Homo sapiens: one gene and its partner. The protein of the gene in region 2 interacts with the protein of the main gene of each other region in a pairwise test. Each region holds a gene or a part of one and is shown on either strand. Other genes may lie near its edges.

Region 1 (8,965 bases), on a different chromosome or scaffold from region 2:
CTGGACTGTACTGGGAACAAAATATTTTTGGAAGGTATCACAGTTCCACATGACATAGATATAGGACCCCAAAGTGTTTTCACACAGGGCCTGGAGTTTCCCAAAAGTTTTTTTTCCAGGGGACTGTTCTCCAGAATTGGCAGGAGGTGAACATGAAGTGTGGCCTGAAATTTAGTGGGGGCTTGAATGAAGAATGGGATTGTCACAGGTAAGAAGGAGCTCCTCTCCAGTCTGCTGAGCGTCTGTTCCCGGAGACTGCACAGGTGGGCCCCCGCCCTCTCAAAGGCCTCACTTCAACCTGTGGATGAGGACAGCCCACTCCTTGTTTTGTGGAATTGGACCTTAGGTTTCTGCCAGGTTTCAGATTTAGGCGGGGCTCTCTGTTAAACACAAAGAAGTTATGGCACCCGGATAACTAGGAGCAGAGTGGGCCCAGAAGGACACCAGGGCTCAAAATTAGGGAGGCACACCTCCTAAAATTACAGAGGTGCTCATTCATTAAGGAGGTGTTCTCCCTAAGACTAAGAAGATATTTGCCATTAAATTAAGGAGGTGTTCTACAATGAAGGAGGTGCTCCTCTTAAAATTAAGGGGGCCCTCATTGTAATTTAATGTGGCCTTCAGTCTAAGCCCAAGGTGGTACTCCCTCCCTCAGGCGCAGTGTAGGCCCTTCGTGGGCCCTGAGAGTGGTAGCTCTGGCCCTGGCATCTAGAGATTTGGGAGGCCCAGAGTCTGAGGGCTTCTAGCTCCTCTTGGAATTTAGCCTGCGCTCTGGCCTTCCATACTTCTCACAGGGCAGTGGGGCTGGTGTCTTGGAAGCTCTGCCTTCACAGGGTGCTAGTCCAGTGTGGAAGTGGTTGGCCTGAATCAGCAACTCACTGGAACAGATACCCCCAGGGCATTACCCTGAGCTGGGACCAGGGACTGAAGAGCTGATTTTTGGATTAGCTGATCAATGATCAGGAGCCAATCAATGGAGACAAACAATGGGACAAAGGCCCTGCTACCCGCAGAATCAGAGCCTCATGACACCAAATTCTCTACAAGAAATAATCGCCCTGAGATGTGCTTCAGTCCGGCTGTGCTGTCTTTCCTGCCCAGGTGGAGGGGCAAGGGAACACTGAACAGCACTGCTTGACACGGCCATTAGTGGCCTTTGACTCCTTCCATCCCTCCCTATTATCCCACCTCAGGCTCCCCAGCTACTCTCACCCCAGCCCAACAGAGGTACCTTATGCCCACTCCAGCACAGCTCACCCCACGCCTCTGTCTCACTCCCTGCATGATCCCAGGAGGTGCCTTGCATCGCACCTTGATGGAGCCATTCATGGACAAGCCTGGCCTCTCTCATCTTGTTAGCTCCTTCCCTCCAGTCTCTGTCCCTCCTGTGTGGGCCAGATCCAACCTTGGTACAAGAACTTTCTTCTCTCAGGGTCCAGGGCTTGCTTCTGTGTTGCTTTCCTGAGCTGTTTGTTGTAGTTCAGGCTTAGCAGAGATCAGAGATCCTGGGCCAAGAGCCTGTGGTACAGCCCTGGGCAGGGCAGCCACTGTGTGAGTATCCTTCTCATCCTGGAGCTCTGGTCTCAGCATGGGTTGACGAAAGCTAGGAGGGGGCTGCACCAGAGCAGAAAGAATATGGGGCCTGCATCAGAAAAGCTGAGTCCTGCATCCTCAGGAAAGTGATTAACTCTTTGGTCTGCATCTTATTCTGGAAAATGGGGAAAATAAAAACATGCAAAATGGTGCCGACCACTGCTCAGTCTAAGTAAATGAGAGTGCTGCACAAATGCAGACGATGGCTAGGAAAGCTATTATAAGAGGCAGGCGGTTCCCATCAGTATTCTCCAGTGGAAGGAGAGGGTTTATTCTCATCCTTTGCTCCCATTAACACACTTGTGGGTTTTTTTGTGGCCAAAAAGCTGTTCCCTGTGCACCAGTGTTGCTTGTTGTTCACTAATTTACTTTGAGGTCCCTTCTCAAAGCCCAGTTGGGATATAAGTGACCCAAACTCCCATCTATCTCCACATCTCTTGTATTAGCCCTCCATAACCCTGCTAGGGTCCCCACGGGGCTCAGGCCAGCATGTTCCTGAGGCTGGGGCCATCTGCGGGGCTGCCTACTGAGGGGATATTCCCCTGGCCTCAGGCTGCTGCTGCTTTTGCCATAGGGCTGACCTCATGATCCACTGTTGCTTATCCGTTCTGACTCCATGGGTTGAATTGTGACATATGTCTTGCATTTATTGTGATGCCCTTGGTGGTAACATGGGACGCTTCACAGTCATCAGAGGCCACACTAACCTTGGCACTGGATGCCCTGGGCATTGGATGAGAATTTTGTACTCACTGTTGCTGAGGGCAGCCTCCGAACCCACCGCGTATATTTATTGCTTCTTTTCATTCTCATCTCCTGCTGGACTCAGGGTGTCCAAAGACACCTCAGGGAAAGACGCTCCAGGCTGATGACAATGGGCGTGGATGGTCCAGGAGAGGTGGTCACCGCCAGGGTAGAGGTGAAAAGCTAGATTTGTACCATTTCCAAGACTATGGAGTTGCTGGAAACAGTTGCTGTGAATTCACTGGGACAGTAAGGTAGTAGCCACAGGCTTCTTAGCTCAGAAGTTGTGGCAAACAGTAAGCATGGTGGGGAGGTTTACCTACGTGTGGAGATCAGTTCAGCTGATATACATGAGCCAGGGTTCAGAGACAGTGTGGGAAAAGGGAAGGATTTCATGGCAGATATTTCTGGACATTCAGTTGGAAGAGACTTCAGATTGAGCTCCTATTGAAACTGTATAGCAATTTGGGGGAGAACTGATGTCTTAACGATATTGAGCCTTCTGACCCATCAACAAGATGCATCTCCATTCATTTAGATTTTCTTTGTTATCTCTCAGCAATGTTTTCTAGTTTCTAGTGTAGTTTGTTTTACATCTTTTGTCAGATTTATCCCTAAATATTTCGGATTTTCAATGCTATTATAATTTGTATTTTTAAAGATTTCATTTTCTAATTGTTTGTTGCTAATGTATGGAAATACAGTTGATTATTATATATTAAGCTTGTCTTCTGCAATGTTGCCATTCCCTCCATTAGCTCAAGTAGCTTTTGGGGTAGATTCTATTAGATTTTCTACAGATGATAACGTCATCTGTGAATAAAATTTTTCTTTTTCCTGGACAATCTGTATGCATTTTGTTTCTGTTTCTTGCACTGGCTAGAACCTCCAGTACAATGCTGACTGGACGTGGTAGAGTGGACACCCTTGCCTTGTTCCTAATCTTAGGAGGAAGCACCTGGTCTTTTACATTTAAGTAGATGTATGTTTTCTGTAATGACCTCTTAAGGTTGAGGGAGTTTCCTTCTGTTACTAGTTTGCTGATGATAGTTTTATTTTAATCATAAAAGAATGTTGGATTTCGTTTAAAACTTTGTGTCTATTTAGATGATAATATGGTTTTTCTTTTTTAGTTTTTAAATATGATGTCTTAGTCCATTTCGGCTGCTATAACCAAATCCCATATACTGGGTACCTTATAGACAACAGAAATTTATTTCCTACAGTGCTGGAGGCTGGGAAATGCAAGATCAAGATGCTGGCAGATTTGGTATCTGAGGGACCCCTTCCTTATAGAAAACTGTCTTCTCACTGTTACCGCACATTGTATGATAGAAGGGCCTAGGGAGCTCTCTCAGGTCTCTTTTATAAGGGCATTATTTCCATTCAGAGAAGGCCCTACCTCCTAATACAATCATGTTGGGTGTTAGGATTTCCACATATGAATTTGGCTGGGGGGACACAAACATTTAGTCCATAACACATGGTAAGTTACATTAATTGATTTTTCAAATATTAAAACAACCTTGCATTTCTGAGATGAACTCCACTTGATTATGATATATCATTCTTTCAATATATTTGTATTTGTTAAAACTTTGCTTAGAATTTTTGCATCTATATTGAGAAGAATATTAGTCTATAGTTTTCTTGTAATATCTTTGGTTTTGGTATCCACATAAATACTAATTTTATAGAATGAGTTGAGAAGTATTGCCTCCTTTCAAATTTCTGGAAGAGTTTGTGTGGAATAGATATTTCTTCCTTAAGTGTTGGTAGAATTCACCTGTGAGGCCATCTGTGCTGATACCCCACTCTTTGGTGATGAGGAAGGACTCTGCAGACCCATATGGTTCATTGGCACTACTGAGGATAGTGTCTCCCACGTAGAATAGCATCTCCCTTGTAAGTACCCTGGTATGGTTTGGCTGTGTTCCCACCCAGATCTCATTTTGAATTCCCACCTGTTGTGGGAGGGACCAGCAGGAGGTAATTGAATCAGGGGGGCAAGTTTTTCACGTGTTGTTCTCGTGATAGTCAATAAATCTCAAGAGATCTGATGGTTTTAAAAAGAGGAATTCCCCCACACAAGCTGTCTCTCCTTGCCTGCTGCCATCCATGTAGGATGTGACTTGCTCCTCCTGGCCTTCTACCATGATTGTGAGGCTTCCTCAGCCACATGGAACTCTAAGTCCAATTAAACCTCTTTCTTTTGTAAATTGCCCAGTCTTGGGCATGTCTTTATCAGCAGTGTGAAAACAAACTTATACAGGCCCACAGGAGAAATTTCTTTTAGGTCTCAATGTCAGGGAGAACCGAGGTATTCACTTCCTATTCCTTCTCAGTGTTCAGGGAGAATGCATCTGCTCACTCATCCACATGGCAGGTTTCCAGAAAGCATTGTCCATGCTCCCATTGTTCTCTGTCCATTCCACACACATCAGGCTTCTTCATCTGACCCTTACCTGGTCTCCTGGGGGTTTCCTGAGCCCCTTCTTCACAGTGTCAGCCACTTATGTCAGACAACATTTCTTTTTGTTCACAGCCCTCTTCAGAAGGCTGAATAGAACCCAGGACAATCTTGAAAGAGCTGTCATCCCATGAAAAATAAAACAGGGCTGCCATCTTTCCTCTGGTTGGCTTACTATATGTGGTGTAGAAATAGCCAAGTTCCTGTGGGCTGATCTTCACAACCCAAGCTCAGAATGTGATGGGAAATGTTTCCCAGTATAATGCTCTTTACAGTGTAGCCCCTTCCTCCTTCCAGCCTCATGAGTCACATACTGCTTTGCTCCTTTCCTCGGATCTTCCTTCTTCTTCCTTCCAACAAAAGGAGCTGATAACTCATGCTACACAGTTCCATGCCCTGCACGTTCCTCTAAAATTAGCCCATGCTGAGTGAGAATCTATGTGCCAGGCAGCTTGCTACTTTAGCCATTGTTTCATTGAGCCCTCACAACTCCAGAGGGTAGATACAGTGATTGTCCCAGGACACAGACCCACCTCCCAAACACTACGCTGCAGTGCTTGGTGCTCGGATGTGCACTTACTAGTTTGCTTCTCTGTCCAGCCCATACACTCCCACAGGGCAAGGTCTTGCCATTCTAATCCATGTGTCTATGCTGCATGACTGGGGACTCAGGACTGGGGATGCAGGACTGGACTGCATCCTGCATCTTGGGGTCATCAAAATACTATGGGACATGCTTTTTAATCCTGATTCAGGTGGAGGAAATAGCGATTAGGAGTGGAGTCTCAGGAGCAGATCACTGGGGACTCAGCAACAGTTTGCCAAGTAAATGAAACCTAATTGAAGTTTCAGATTTCTTGTTATAAATCTAGAAGCAAGGCACAGGCACAAAGTTGTGAAAAAAGAAATGTTTGAACCAAATCCTATTGCCTGTTGGTGGTAGGTGGGGGGAACAGAGGGAGGCAGATTCCATTTACTTGTGGAGCCAATTGTAACAGAAAAGGAAAACAGTCAACATTCACTTGGAAGGTCTGAAAATACAATGTGGGCTCACTTGGGTGATAAATCTCTTGCGAGGCGTTGGAGTGCATGACACTTTCTTAAACAGCAGGAGGTGGTCATGGGGATATACATGTAAGAGGGGTAAAATTAGCATGGAGGGCCCAAGATGGCTGCTTCAGAAGCATTTGTTTTCCTGAAGGCTTTGAACAGGGCTAAGGTCAAACTATGCATTTGCTCTATCCTTTAAAATATAATGAGAACAGCTGGGTTTTAAATACTTCTTTTCTCCTAATGTACATTAATAAGCCAATGCTCTAACTGTGTGGGAAGCATGGGAGCAGTTGAAAATGTGGCTGTGTCCATTATATAGAGAAACAGGTTAATGGGTCAAAACCTGGAACAAAATAAAACCCCTCAGTGATTCCAGGTTGATTCCAAGCACTCAATTTGTGAGAAACAGCACGTCAGCCTGACAAGCAGAGTTCACTCAGAATGGCTTTGCCTCCATCCCCTCATGCCCTGCTGGCTCTGCCATGCCCTTTGCTTTGGAGCTGCCATAACACAGCCCTGTGTTTGGGCAGAGTGGAGTTCTAACACCGGACCTCTGTCTCCTGGCCATGTGACCTCTGCCAGGTTACCTCAATGTTCTGAGCTTCAGTTTCCTCATTTGTAAAATAGGACTGAGCCCAGCACTCTAGCGTCTCAGGCATTTGTGGGGCTGGAGCGAGACAATGACCATAATGCATGCAGTCAGCCCTGCACCTCTGGACCCATCAAGGCAAGCCCTACTGTGATAGTTCCCCCTGGAAATGTGTGCAGATTTGTCTGTCCCCAGATGGGTTCCAGGAGCAGATTTGGCTAGAGAAGGTCACGGTGGTGCTGGTTAAAGCATGTGTGGCAATCTTGAGATAGAGAATGGATAGCTGCAATGAATATCGGTGTCTTGAGATTTAGAAAGTGTTTGGTGATCCTTGACTATGTGCTTCACTGTACGTGTGTCCTCACCATGACCCCACCTGACTGATCAGAACTGACCAAGGGCAGGAGCATGAGGGTAGAGGATGGGGAAGTTCTGATCAAGCCTCTCCTGCTCTCCTCTGTGTGTTTTGCATCCTGCATCTTGGGGTCATCAAAATACTATGGGACATGCTTTTTAATCCTGATTCAGGTGGAGGAAATAACGATTAGGAGTGGAGTCTCAGGAGCAGACCATCATCAGGTGGAACTTTGTCTTCTTGCTTCCTGGTGTGAGACCCTGAGCAAGATGCTTCGCTCCATCAGGCCTCGGTTTCCCTTCCTGTACAGTGGGTATGAGGATGAACATGATGATGCTCCCAATGACAGGAGGATGAAATGCGATACTGCATTTAAAATACACAGTGCAAAGCTTGGGCTTTGAGTATTATTTGAGTAAATACTCAAATAATCATGTTCATTCTCAGCAACCTCTGCTCTGGGCAGAGGCTGGAAGAGTGAAATTCAGCCCTGGAGATGGGGCAGTGGGGCCTCAAGCTGGAGCCTCTTTGCTCTGAGGGAAATTGGGAGGCCTTGCTCAAGTGCCCAGAGACATTTTCTGAGCAAGCCTCTTATGGGGAAGCCCATGCACATCTGTGTGTGAGGACACAGCCTGAGGGGAGGGCTTTCACTACAAGGCGGGGCTCAGGGACATGTCTCCCCTTCCCTCCATGCCCAGCCTGGACGGCCTGAGAGGTGCCTCCTCTGTCCCACAAAGGGGGCTCTTCCCATGCTCTTCCTGGCCACCTCAGCAGGGGCTGGGGAGTGGCAAAGGAGTTATTCAAGATTCCCCTGAGGTTAAAGGGTAAGAGGATGGCTGAAGTTCAAAGGGAAGCCAACCCTGCTTTCCTAGCCTGCAACTGGGACCAATGCTGTGGGACAGGTCCTTTCTCATCTCACAGGGGAGGAGTGCCCTGGACCGCTGTGCTCCAGGCTCAGTTAAATCCATTTCCCAGGACCCCTTTCCTGCCATTTGGTCTGTGCTGAGAACCTGTCACAGGGCTGAGCCTCCTCTGGGGCCTGAGTCTCACACTCAGGACATCTTTACCCTGTCTCTAGTGGACACGGGGAGAACCTGCTTTGAGGGATGGACAGGCAGGAGCTCCGGCATCCGCACAGGGGAATGTGGAGTGCTCACAGCCTGTGTGCCATTTCCCAGCTGTGTCTGCTTCCATGGGCGGCAATGGATGCCGCGTCTCAGCAACTGAGGCACTTAGACATCACACGGGCGCATGCATGCACATGGACCCATGGGCGCCTGCCCCCCAACCCCACATCCTGAGCCAGGGAGGTGAAGCAAATGAACCCGGTGTAAACAATGCGGGAGTGGTCTGTTATGTCCTGGAAACCACATGACTGCTCCAGAGGGAGGGAATTTTCTAATTTTAGAAACACTTCCACCCAGGTGCAACTACCTGAGGCCTGTTTATCCCAATTTGGTGGTGGCAATGATCCGTCTGTGCTCTACAACCCCTCATGATATGGGGCTGGACACTGAGGTGGGGCAAGAATGGTCTGCGGGACTTCGAGGAATCCTAAGGAGGCTTCATCCAAAGGCTGTGGCTTCATCCACAGTCATAGGGCCTTGACATGCTGGCAGAGGCACCCACCAGGTGCCGTCAGTGCTTTTGACAGCCCTGATCCTGTCTGCAGGGGGTCCAGGGAAGAGGCTGCTAATGAGAGGCTGTAGCCTCTTAGCAGCTGCCTGGTCCCTGCAGGTGACACTCTGAGTGCCCTTGGGTCACATGTCTTCCTAGCTTTTAAGAAATCCACACTCCCCACCTCCCTAGGGTTTCTGCAAAGTGAGGCCCTCTATTTCCGGTCTTATTTCCTCTCTAGCAGCAGTGCCCTTGTAAATGAAGCCTGGATTTCTCAACAGAAGATTTCAACAAAAGAGAGGCTTAGGAGAATAAGGAATTTGCAAATCCTATGTACTGGAAATAGGCCAGGAGTTCAGTGATGCTGGAAGAAACTCGAGATTTGCCCAAGAACACCAAACCCCTCTCTCTAGCCTCCCACTCCCTCCCAGCACTCTAGAAAGCCCGAGCAAGATCATTTGAAAGCCTGGCCATTAGAAGGGAGCTCATGGCTATTTTTAGTCTGAATCTCCTATCAAAACCAAGAGGGAGGCCCATTCTCAGC
Region 2 (7,371 bases):
GAGCTTCTTAATCCTGAGTTCTAGTTTGATTGCACTGTGGTCTGAGAGAGTTTGTTATAATTTCTGTTCTTTTACATTTGCTGAGGAGAGCTTTACTTCCAAGTATGTGGTCAATTTTGGAATAGGTGTGGTGTGGTGCTGAAAGAAATATATATTCTGTTGATTTGGGGTGGCTTTAACACCCCACTGTCAACATTAGACAGATCAGTGAGTCAGAAAGTTAACAAGGATACCCAGGAATTGAACTCAGCTCTGCACCAAGCAGACCTAATAGACATCTGCTAGCCCAGAGATTCTAATGATTATATCTGGGCTCAGCTTAGGCAGTAGGGCTTTGGAAAACTCTCACTTCATGCTAATGTGCATCCATTTGGTAACTCCTATTCTAAATTCCTTCTTGGGAGTCTAAAGTATACCAAAACTCAAAACCCAAACAGTATGGAGTAAAGTTGTGTCCTTCTTTATTTCCTTTACTTCCTTTCTTTTTTTCTCTTTCTCTTCCTTCCTATTTTCCTTCTTTGTTTCTTTTGTTTGTTTGTTTAAGAACAAAGTTATCTATTTTTTCTTTGGTTGCTTGTGCCTCTGGTGTCATATTGAAGAACTCATTGCCTTTCCAAGGTAACAAAATGTATACCTATGTTTTCTCCTAAGAGGTTTTATAATTTTAGCTCCTACATTTAGGCCTCCATTTTTATTTTTGTGTATGGCGTGAGGTAGGTATCCAATTTTATTCTTTTGTATATGGCTATCCAGTTGTCCCACCACAGTTTGTTGAAAAGATTGTTATTTTCACATTGAGTTTTCTTGGACCTTTATTGGTTATCTTTTAATACATATGCTTATATCATTCTCAATTAGGCAGTAAGATTTTTGAGATCAGGGAGCTTCTCCTATCTTTATCTGTACCCCACCATACTTAACAAAATGCTTTACCCATAACAGGTACCTGATGAACTAATTTCTCTTTCTCCAGCCAGGTAGTAAGTTCTAAGGGTAGACAACTTATTTATTCTTTCTCAGCATTTTGCACTGCTGAGTAGGCTGGGGTCAATAGAGGATAATTGTAACTTTGCTTTGATTTTGCCACCACATGATTCTATCATATTCATTTATGACTTGGTACTTTTTAGCTCAGAACACACAACCAAGTTTTCCATAAAAGGAAGCTCACTAAAGGATTGAAGACTTAACCTAGGAAAATTTCAGATTTGAACCCCTCCATCAGTGTTTTATGTTATACACCAAGAATTTAAAACAAATCAGATTTCTTAAATGAACTCAAGCTAAATGAATCTGAAGTAACTATTTCTGTGTATTGGATCTTTGACTATTCTCTTGTTGATGTGAAATTAAAGGTAAATTTTCTGGGTTTTAACAGGTGCTAGTAATTCCTACTGGTCAATGTTGACAAGACTTTAAATGTAAAGCTACATTTTGAATAATAAGAGGAAACATGTATCTTGCTCATGATTTCTGTGCTCCAAAAGTGATTTGTATAAAGAAAGAAAAGGAAATACCCTACATATCCAATAATAGAGGAATGGTAAATTTATATTGATTCATAAAATCCTAAGTTGAAATTAAGTGATGCTTATGAAATTATGTATCAATAAGGAAAAATCTATGATATACTGTTACATGTAAAAAGTAAATATTATGCAGTGATTGTAAGTGAGTAATCTATTACTATGAAGTAGGATAATCAACTATCCTGTTTGCCTGGGACTATCTTGGTTTTAACATTGAAAATCGTGTATCCCAGGAAATCCCTCAGACTCAGACAAACTGGGATGGTTTATCACCTTATTTTAAACAAAGATTATAAGAAAACCAGAAGAAAATGAAAATAAGTTACGTCAGCCTCCTAGTCAATGAGTGCACTTGGGTTTTTAAAGTTTATTTCCTTTGTGGATACAACATTATTTTTACAAAAATGCAAATTGGGAGGAAAAACTAAGGCTAGAGAATATATCTTCTACTTCTTGGCAAAGCATGTTTACTATTGGTCAATGTTATTATTTGACTCTATATTGCCAAAGGGATAATCGGGGAGAAGGTCATAGGAATTTTCATCCTTCTTTAATAGCAGACATTAAAGATGTCTCCTATTATAAGGAGTTATGTGAGGTCAGCTAAAACTAATTATTTGAGGTCATACAAATGACTCAAAATTCTTAGAGAAACCATGGGTTTGGAGAGGAATCCTCATATATATTTCAGAAGAGGAGAAAAAATAAGATAGAAATAAGATCTTGTATTTTTTTAAAGATTTCTGACTTTCATTTTTTTCTCAGGCCTGCTCCTACTATGTCCTTTTCCTTCTCTCATATATTTCAGTCGTCTGGAGTTCTCAGAATAAGGAATCCATTATCAATGACCTATCCCATGAACATTTTTTTTGAGAACCTGTGTAAGACTATATAGACATGAATATTTGATGACCTGACACCTCACCGTTCAAACCTAGATTTGGGTTGTATAAATATCAACTCAAGGCTGTAAGAGCCTCCCATGGTCTAATGTTTCAAGAGTAAAGAAGAATAGACAAACACCCATGTTGGAATCATCTGTTGCAGAAAAGAACACAAAGATAGTTTTATTAATTTAGAACAAATTTTGAGAACTTTACATAGACAGAAATCTTCTATCTCCTTTTTTTCTAATTTTGGGGAATGTCTTCCACTAGTGGTCGCTAAAAATGTAGAAATATCATAGGGAGTGCAAATTACATTGTCTCTTTACCTGCCACAATCTGGCAGCACTCATCATGTAGCAAATGCCCAAATAATAGACTACAGATTATAGTGACTTCACCCTAGGTTAACATTATTTCTAGGTAAGGTACTAGTATATCTGAATTGAAAAGTAGGGCAGCTGTTGACTCAGATTCGGCATTTTAATTACATTGTTTCCAAGTATGATATTCTGAGAGTGTCTATAGCACTTAGTGTCTGCTTCATATAAACTACCAGTTATTATATATTTATGATGCAAGTAGTTTTCCAAATGTGGTGAAAGTCTGAGTCTTTTTATCCCCATGGGTAAAATCTGAATCTGGCTCTCTGTGTCTCTCAGTGCTTGTTTATTGCTGGTCAGAGAGTAAATTCTTGATAAAAGCTGTTGACTTGGCTCTCACAGTTTATGCAGACATTGGAGAGACAATTTGGTTATTTCAAACATCACAGGATTTGAGTAAGAAGACCTGGTTATGAAACAAGGCTCTCATAATTACTAGTTATGACTGTTGACAAGTTACCTTTTCTTGTTTACAAGTTATTTGGCCTCTTTGAATTACTTGTAAAATAGAGATAGGGATTCTTTCTTGATCATGGAACATCAAATGAAGTTATTTGATGAAATACTTTGTCATCTGGAAATTATAAATATAACTAAATGTTAATTATTATTTGAAATTTGGGCACCTCATGGTGGCATTTTCTATGGTCATTTTTTTCTTTTCTCGCATAATGGCTAAAAGTAGGTAGACATGCAAACAATAGCCTAGAGTGGGAGTTAGGAAAAGTTAAGGCAGAGACATGTCCATGTATAAGCTATGCTGTTTTTACAAAAAACAGATGGGTGTTGGCTATTTAGAGCTTCCCTCATGGGGTGTGGTAACTCTAAGAATGTGCCACAATGTCAGCCCTGTAGAAAGATAAATGGAATGGGTTCTGTATTGTCCCTAGTTGTTATTTTTTTTTATCATCCTTAAAACAATGATGCAAAAGGGACTCCACCAAAAACGTAGATGTGGAATAAAAAAAAGATAGTTTAGGAATGTCATGAAGCAGTCATATATCTTTTCCATCAGGTGCAGTCTCCCTGGTTGTTGATGGAGAAAATGACAAAAAAAAATACTATACTAAAAAGCCTATCCAAGGAACAGGTTAGTAGGAAATCACATTCTGAAGCACTCATTCTGCCTTTCTTCAGTGTAAGAAAGTTGCTCAAAAGAAGAAGCGTGACAACACAAGCTGCTACAATGGCTACATTCTCTACATTCAATGTAAGAGAGAAGGAGCTATGGTCACTCCATGCAAAGGCCAGATAGAGATGTGGTGCGTATGTGCAGAGTACCTCAAGAAATGAAAGTCAGCATGTCTCTTGGAAGCTATGAACACTAATGTTTAAAAAAGGAAACAGAAAACAGAAGAAATCACTTAAGGAGAGCTGTCATTTTCTATTGGTGAGGATTCCTGATCTTGGGGAGGTTCTGGAAAGTTCGTCTCTGTTTCTTCTTCTTCCTCTTCTTGGATTGGAATAATTTCAATGTCTTCTTCATTCTTTGGTTGGGAAGATGTTTCAGTTAGCCCAACCACTTCTTCTTTTATTTCAATAGTCTGTTCTTTTTTTTCTTCTGCTGACAGGAGAACTATGTTCTAAAACAGAAAATTAAACAAACCATTCTTTACTTTTACCACTGACACCTTTGTCAACAATCTCCACAAACATTTATCAAATACCTCCTGGTTTTTATGCTACTTATGTCATTTATTATATGCCTTTAAATGCCAAAATTTTTTTGCAGGTGCTTATATCCTTATCAAGTCATTTATTAAAACTCAAGTCTGAATAAATCTTCAAGGGCAGCAGACATTGACCACAGTGCCTGGAATGACCACGTGGTATTGGGAAAAGAACATTGCAGTAATAGAGGAGTTTAGATTTTCGTTCTGATTTGCCTTTAGTGAATATAACTCTGGGAGAATAATTTTCTCTCTTTGATACTATTTTTCTTTAAATGCAAAATGAAGTAATTAGCGATGATTTCTAAATTCTAAATCTAACAGTCTGGTTCTGAAGCAGTTAGTAATATATCTATTATTGGTCTGTTTTTATTTCCCATTTGTGGAGCCCTTTAACCTGTTGTTTTGGAAGAGGAATTAGGTGAAAAGGAGGGAAGAGGGGAATACTGAAAAATGAAACCAAAGAACTAGTGACTTAGCCTTCAACCTTCAACCATCTTGCTTTTACACACTGTATATGGAATCATGAAATCAGGATGGAAGCCTGAAGTCAAGCAGCAGGGAAGGTTAATAAGAAGATGCACAGAGGTGGGGCATGGTGGCTCACGCCTGCAATCCCAGCACTTTCGGAGGCTGAGGTGGGAGGATCACCTGAGGTCGGGAGTTCAAGACTGGCCTGGCCAACATGGTGAACCCCCGTCTCTACAAAAATACAAAAATTGGCCAGGCATGATGGCGGGTGCCTGTAATCCCAGCTACTCGGGAGGGTGAGGCAGGAGAATCGCCTGAACCCGGAGGCAGAGGTTGCACTGGGCCAAGATCGCGCCATTGCACTCTAGCCTGGGCAACAAAGTGAGACTCTGTCTCAAAAAAAAAAAAAAAAAAGACGCACAGAATATAGAACTGTAGGCTCTAACTACAGACTTATTTCAAATTTCAAGACATCATATTATTTGCTTTCTAGAAATATGCCAAGACCAATTTTTTTTTTTAAATCAAGCTCCTAGTTTCAACAACTCATCAGATTACATTCTCCATAAATGATCCTTTGTGGATGTGGATTTTCTAGAGGGAGGTTTTGGCCAGAGGGGCTACTACTTACAGATTTGGGTCTGGAGCACGTTCTTTTCCATTCATTCTCAACGATGCCAGCTATTACAAGTTCCTGGAAGAAGGCAAAGATCAGCATCACTGACAAAATGCCCTGAAAAACAACAGAAGAATGAAGGTGAAAATGTAATAATGGCACAAAGAACATTGTTGGTGTTCAGTAAGTTATTGTTGACTATAATTGAACGATTAAGAGATCAATTCTTTAGACAAGTAATGAATAGCTGTGAGAACTGCTAGTACAGGAGACAGCATCTTTATAACCCTAACTCTTAACACAACTTTTGGCACACAACAGATGGTTAATGTGTATTGCTGATAGAAAGTAAGGTATGAATAATCAGTTGAAGAATCAATTCTGTATAGGAAAGAATAAGTAATGAGTCTCAAATTAAATTGTATTCAGCCTTAGTTGGTGTGGCATCATGCCTAGGAGACCTCTTCATCCTTGGGAGATGCATTTTTTTTTATCTCTTTCAAACTCTACATTTAAAAGTCCTTGGGCAAAAGATATTCATAACATCTTAGGAATTTCTTCTATGCTCATCTTAGTTAATATAATGGTAAATATTAATGCCATTAATGATGTTGAGAATAATTAATGTTAAAGCCAATGCTTATATAGCACTTCTGTGTACCAAACACTGTTCTAAATGCTTTGTATATATTAACTTATTTATTCCTCAGAACAACCCTATTAGATAAATAGTGTTACCATCCCCATTTTACAGTTGAAGAAATTGAGGCACAGTGTGGTTAAAATTCTTTCCCAAAGCCACACAGACAGTAACTAGCAAACTCAGGTGGTCTGGATCCAGAGTTCATGCTCATAATAAACAAGTCATCCTTCCTCCCTGGAGAGAAATCCAATCTCACACTTACCAAGAACACTTACCAAGAACAGAGATTGTATGCTGTAACAGTATTGGGTAGATGGGGAGTTTTTCTCAGAGGGATTAGCTGGTTCACAGTTGTATATGTTAATATATGGTGTGTGAGCTCTAATAAAATTCAGACTCTCCATTTTTAAAAAATGGGAAATTTTAATATTAAGTATGTCCATGATTGAAAGAATCATTCCAGAAATGGCAGCAAAGAGGCTCAATGAATTCATTATCATTTTTCCTTTGACCTGAAATGGAGACACAGATTTATTAATTGGGTTTGATTTCCCTTTGGAAAACATAATCTGGGAGGGAATTCCAAATGCAACTGCCCTGACTCACAAAGCAACTACAACTAAATATACTGAAGTTCTCTCAGTTGTTTTTAGCCTCTTTGTCACTATAAAATAAAATCATGTCTCTATCCTGTTCTTTTCTCAGTCTTCCCTATCTCATTCACCATCCATCTGTTTTATAAAGCAAAAATTCTAAGAGTAACCCTTGATTCTATATCTTGTATCCTTGCATTTCCTTCACTGCCACTGCCACCATCCTAGTAGGCACTCAATAAATGTTTGTTGAATAAGTGAAGATAAATATTATCCAGTTTATTATCTGCCTTCATAAATAGGTAGAGGGAAGAGAGTGAAGAAGTTTCTTGTATCACACTTTAGTGGGATGGTATTATGAAGTATAGGTTGGGAAGGTTCAGATAGAACCCTCTAGATCTGTACTATCAAATAAATGGAAATAAAAAAAGCAGAAGCAACAACAGTAACAACATCTATTCCTGCTGACATAGGTTGCAATCAGCCCCAGTCAGCTATCTTCCAAAATACAATTAGGGCTGATGTCTTTGGGTAGCATAGGTAAGAAAATATCAGTGTGAATGTTCTACCTTGCAGGGATGA

Evidence for each region.
Region 1: the proteins of MS4A1 (region 2) and TMEM72 interact in binary tests that used the Homo sapiens proteins (3 or more experiments, as listed by UniProt).

What each region holds. Positions count from the first base shown.
Region 1 is NC_000010.11:44,913,549-44,922,513, reverse strand, and holds part of TMEM72 (transmembrane protein 72), read right to left. Parts: intron 1-8,965.
Region 2 is NC_000011.10:60,465,258-60,472,628, reverse strand, and holds the end of MS4A1 (B-lymphocyte antigen CD20), read right to left. Parts: intron 6,709-7,371; coding exon 6,472-6,708; intron 5,671-6,471; coding exon 5,569-5,670; intron 4,380-5,568; coding exon 4,161-4,379; 3' UTR 1,877-4,160; downstream 1-1,876. UniProt on the Homo sapiens protein: B-lymphocyte-specific membrane protein that plays a role in the regulation of cellular calcium influx necessary for the development, differentiation, and activation of B-lymphocytes.